Linked DNA regions of Homo sapiens: region 2 is linked to region 1. Evidence: fine-mapped expression QTL. A gene starts in region 1. The other region holds a variant in brackets. All regions are shown on one strand. Distances are from middle to middle.

What was found. PIP is the estimated chance that this variant, and not a neighbour inherited with it, causes the effect.
Region 2: its variant is fine-mapped to the expression of CT55 in cerebral cortex (GTEx, PIP above 0.99). The same link has a PIP of 0.9 or more in amygdala, anterior cingulate cortex, caudate, hippocampus, hypothalamus and nucleus accumbens.

Annotation. Positions count from the first base shown.
Region 1 is chrX:135,169,895-135,172,648 of GRCh38, forward strand. It overlaps CT55 (cancer/testis antigen 55), which reads right to left and starts at 1,504. Exons shown (of 6, transcript NM_001031705.3): 1 at 1,184-1,504. The coding sequence starts at 1,277.
Region 2 is chrX:135,278,658-135,281,411 of GRCh38, forward strand. It overlaps a transcript of ZNF75D not described here. Among named protein-coding and RNA genes, the nearest start is that of ETDA, 28 kb to the left of the region's middle. The variant T/C (reference allele first, on the strand shown) is at 1,241.

The sequences.
Region 1 (2,754 bases):
GACCTTGTTTTCATCTGTCAATCCACAACAATCACAATTTCGCCTAATAGGGTTGTTGTAGGTTTTTAAAATATTTTTAAAAATTTATTAAAATTTAAAAATTTTAATTTTTAATTATTTTTTAATTTTTTGAGCAGAGTCTGGCTCTGTCGCCGGGGCTGGAGTGCAGTGGCGCAATCTGGGCTAGCGGCAACCTCTGCCTCCTGGGTTCAGGTGGTTCTCATGTCTCAGCCTCCCCAGTAGCTGGGACTACAGGTGTGTACCGTCACACCCAGCTAATTTTTGAATTGTTAATAGAGACGGGGTTTTGCCATGTTGCCCAGGCTGGTCTCCAGCTCCTGGCCTCAAGTGATCCACCTACCTGGAACTCCCAAAGAGCTGGGATTACAGGTGTGAGCCACCGCGCCCAGCTTACGAATATTAACTGACACATGCACATCAACTGTCGAGAGCTCTGAGTGCCTTGCACAAGAGTGTGTAAATGTTACCTGTTAGCATTTCTACATATGAGTCTTTAAGCTTCTGCTCCTATTATATTCCTTCATCATTATCACCAACATGATGAGTAGCACCTTCTATAGATACTTAACCATCTCAGCAGACAAAGTACTAAAAGATATCTGGAGATTGAAGGCTAGCCCAAAACGGCATCTGAATGGTTTTCTTTATTTCTCCTTCTTCTTCTTCTTCTTTTTTTTTTATTCTGCACAAGCCTAGCTGATCAGCAATACTTAGGGATCAAACCTCAGCAGTCGCCGGCAGGGGTTCTCTGCCTTCCTTTGGGATCAGATAAGTATGAGGCATCAACTTGGCTTCAAATTACATTCCCGTTTGGGATACAAGCCTAAATTAACTCGCAAATTAGGGAGTTTCTCGCCTACTGGAAATATAAATAGGCATGTGCTGTGCGACCACGTGGGGGAAAAGCACAGGCGGTACAGACCCCAAGGTCTTCTCTGTCAACACCTTCCCGCTTTAGATGGACAGGAGAGTTTGGGGGTTGGTTCTCAGGGAATTGTTGAGGACTCGGGTTGCCTCGGGTTGCCTCCCCATGCACGCACAAGATGGAGCCACCGTCACGTGCAGTACCCACCCGAGTTACAACAGCCTCATTCCGGGGGTGAGGAGAACCCCTATTGGGAGGCTTCTGGGGTGGGGGACAAGGGGACACACAGAGGAATACCTTGTGGGAGGCCCTGCTGCTGTGGGCCCTGTCGCTCTGCAGGGTCGGCCGTCCTCCCGTAGAAGGCCAAAGCAAGTCTCAGAAGCCTGAGCATCGTCCCAGTTGTCACCACCGGCCTGGGCACCGCTTGTGGCAGATGAAGCACGAGGCCTCCTCAGTAAGGGAAGCCCTCAGGTCACGGCGTCTCCTCAGGGACTCACTTCCTGCTTCTCCTCAGACACTGTGGCATGGGACCCACCCGTTAGTGAGCCCCCCTCAGGAGAGTCAGGGACACCGCAGCCTCCAAAGGAGCTCCCAGCTTCTCCGCTGACTTCTCCCTCTGAGCATGCGCTCGTCAGGGCCCGCCTCTACCACTGTCCAACCAATGGGCGTGCAGTGGGTGGGCGGGCAGGTTCTTGTGGCTACTAAAAGGCGATGGGTGGGAACATCGTGGCTTCTCCCATCAAGGCTGAGGGAGCCATTAGGATGGCCTGGGGAAAATGGCTTGGGAGCTTGGGTTCTGCATTTACTAAGGAGATACAGGGCTCTTCTCTTGGGTTCCCTGGGAGGATGGGTGCCTGAAACACCGGCTGTGCAACCAAAAATCCTGCTCCTGCCCTTGTATTCGTGGTGCTTAGCATAAGGAGTCACCACTCAGTGGGCGGTCAATAGTTACTCCTCACCAGGGATCAATTTTGTGGAGAGAGGGCATCATGTGGGTAGGCAATGTTTTAGTGATGGCAAGTACGTGTCTTGTGTACTAGGACTGCCATTTTTAGTCCAGTGATAATTTATAATAGAATCCTTTTATGATCATTGCTACCATGTACTCATCGCTTACCTGGTTATGCTTACATTACTCTGATATACACATTACCCTTATTCATTCATTCAGCAAAACTTGTAGGGCACTAACTGTGAACCAGACACTGTTCTGTGTTCCTAAAATTTGTTAATGAATGAAAGAGTCAAGAATCTTCACCCTGTGAGGGTAGATTTTTCACAGGATGACGAAAGGGTGACACTAAACATCACATAATAAAATATATGGTATGTTAGAAGGCAATAAATGCCATGGAAAAATATAGCAGGACAAGGGAGATCCACAGTGCTGGGCATGGGGTATTGGATTGCACTTTACAATAGCATGGTCAGAGTAGCCCTCATTGGAAAGCAATAGTTGAGAAAGATGTTGGAGTTAGCCAGGCAGCTATTTTTGGAGGAGCCGTTCAGACGGAGGGCACAGTTTGTGCAAAGACCATACAGCAAGACTGTGCGTGATGTATTCAAAGAAAAGCAGTGATTAGAGCAGAGGCAGTGAATAGCTAGAAGAGTGGGAAGTATGGTAAGAGAGATAATAGAGGTTCAGGCTGCATGTGGGATAGTGGGGCACTGGAAGTCCTTTGGCTTTTATTGTCCATGACACGTAAAGTCCCTGAAGGATTTGGAGCCTCCAGGGATCACTCCAGGTGCTTGGTTGTGAACAGGCTGGAAGAGGTCAGAGCAGGAAGCAAGGAGAACAGTTTGGATGATTCTGATGCAATCCATGGGCACTGTGGATGAAACCTGTTTGTCTTTCCTCTCCTACTGTG
Region 2 (2,754 bases), 110 kb after region 1:
TTCCATCAATACTTAAGTTTATTGAGACTTTTTAGCACAAAGGAGTGTTGAATTTTATTGAAGGCCTTTTCTGCATCTATTGAGATAATCATGTGGTTTTTGTCATTTGTACTGTTTAAGTGATGGATTATGTTTATTGGTTTGCATATGTTGAACCAGCCTTGCATCCCAGGGATGAAGCTGACTTGAAGGTGGTGGATAAGCTTTTTGATGTGCTGCTGGATTCGGTTTGCCAGTATTTTATTGAGGATTTTTTCATTGATGTTTATCAGGGATATTGGCCTGAAATTTTCTTTTGTGTGTGTGTGTGTCTCAGGTTTTGGTATCAGGATGATGCTGACCTCATAAAATGAGTTAGGGAGGAGTCCCTCTTTTTCTATTGTTTGGAATAGTTTCAGAAGGAAGGGTACCAGCTCTTATTTGTACCTCTGGTAGAATTCGGCTGTGAATCTGTCTGGTCCTGGGCTTTTTTGGTTGGTAGGCTATTAATTACTGCCTAAATTTCAGAACTTGTTATTGGTCTATTCAGGGATTCGACTTCTGCCTTGTGTAGTCTTGGGAGGGTGTATGTGTCCAGCAATTTATCCATTTCTTCTAGATTTTGTTGTTTATTTCCATAGAGGTATTTATAGTATTCTCTGATGGTAGTTTGTATTTCTGTGGGATCAGTGGTGATATCCCCTTTATCATTTTTTATTGTGTCTATTTGATTTTTCTCTCTTCTTCTTTATCAGTCTGGCTAGCAGTCTATCTATTTTGTTAATCTTTTCAAAAAAACAGCTCCTGGATTCATTGATTTTTTGAAGGGTTTTTCATGTCTCTATCTCCTTCAGTTTGGCTCTGATCTTAGTTATTTCTTGTCTTCTGCTAGCTGTTGAATTTGTTTGCTCTTGCTTCTCTAGTTCTTTTAATTGTGATGTTAGGGTGTCAATTTTTGATCTTTCCTGCTTTCTCCTGTGGGTATTTAGTGCTATAAATTTCCCTCTAAACACTGCTTTAGCTGTGTCCCAGAGATTCTGGTACATTGTATCTTTGTTCTCATTGGTTTCAAAGAACTTATTTATTTCTACCTTAATTTTGTTATTTACTCACTAGTCATTCAGGAGCAGGTTGTTCAATTTCCATGTAGTTGTGAGGTTTTGAGTGAGTTTCTTAATCCTGAGTTCTAATTTGATTGCACTGTGGTCTGAGAGACTGTTATGATTTCCATTATTTCGCGTTTACTGAGGAGTATTTTACT[T/C]CCAATTGTGTCGTCAATTTTAGAATAAGTGGGATGTGGTGTTGAGAAGAATGTATATTCTGTTTATTTGAGGTGGAGAGTTCTGTAGATGTCTATTAGGTCTGCTTGGTCCAGAGCTGAGTTCAAGTCCTGAATATGCTTGTTAATTTTCTGTCTTGGTGATCTGTCTAATATTGACAGTGGGGTGTTAAAGTCTCCCAATATTATTGTGTGGGAGTCTACATCTCTTTGTAAGTCTCTAAGAACTTGCTTTATGAATCTGGGTCCTCCTGTATTGGGTGCATATATGTTTAGGATAGTTATCTCTTCTTGTTGCATTGATCCCTTTACCATCATGTAACGCCCTTCTTTGTCTTTTTTGATCTTTCTTGGTTTAAAGTCTGTTTTATCAGAGACTAGGATTGCAACCCTTTCTGTTTGTTTGTTTGTTTCCATTTACTTGGTAAATATTTCTCCATCCCTTTATCTTGAGCCTATGTGTGTCTTTGCACGTGAGATGGGTCTCCTGAATACAGTACAGTGATGGATCTTGACTCTTTATCCAATTTGCCACTCTCTGTCTTTTAATTGGGACATTTAGCCCATTTACATTTAAGGTTAATATTTTTATGTGTGAATTTGATCCTGTCATTATGATGCCAGCTGGTTATTTTGCCCATTACTTGATGCAGTTTCTTCATAGTGTCGATGGTCTTTACAATTTTGTATGTTTTTGCAGTGGCTGGTACCGGTTTTTCCTTTCCATATTTAATGCTTCCTTCAGGAACTCTTGTGAGGTAGGCCTGGTGGTGACAAAATCTCTCAGCATTTGCTTGTCTGTAAAGGATTTTATTTCTCCTTTGCTTATTAAGCTTAGTTTGTCTGGATATGAACTTCTGGGTTGAAAATTCTTTCCTTTAAGAATGTTGAATATTGGCCCCCACTCTCTTCTGGCTTGTAGGGTTTCTGCCAAGAGATCCGCTGTTAGTCTGATGGGCTTCCCTTTGTGGGTAGTCCGACCTTTCTCTCTGGCTGCCCTTAACATTTTTTCCTTCATTTCAACTTTGGTGAATCTGACAATTATGTGTCTTTGGGTTGCTCTTCTCATGGAATATCTTTGTGGTTTTCTCTGTATTTCCTGAATTTGAATGTTGGCCTGTCTTGCAAGGTTGGGGAAGTTCTCCTGGATAATATCCTGAAGAGTGTTTTCCAACTTGGTTCCATTCTCCTTGTCACTTTCAGGTACACCAGTGAAATGTAGGTTTGGTCTTTTCACATAGTCCCATATTTCTTGGAGGCTTTGTTCCTTTTCATTCTTTTTTCTCTAATCTTGTCTTCATGCTTTATTTCATTAAAATGATCTTCAATCTCTGATATCCTTTCTTCTGCTTGATCGATTTAGCTATTGATACTTGTGTATGCTTCATGAAGTTCTCGTGCTGTGTTTTTCAGCTCCTTCAGGTCATTTGTGTTCTGCTCTAAACTGATTATTCTAGTTTGCAATTTCTCTCACCTTTTTTCAACGTTCTTAGCTT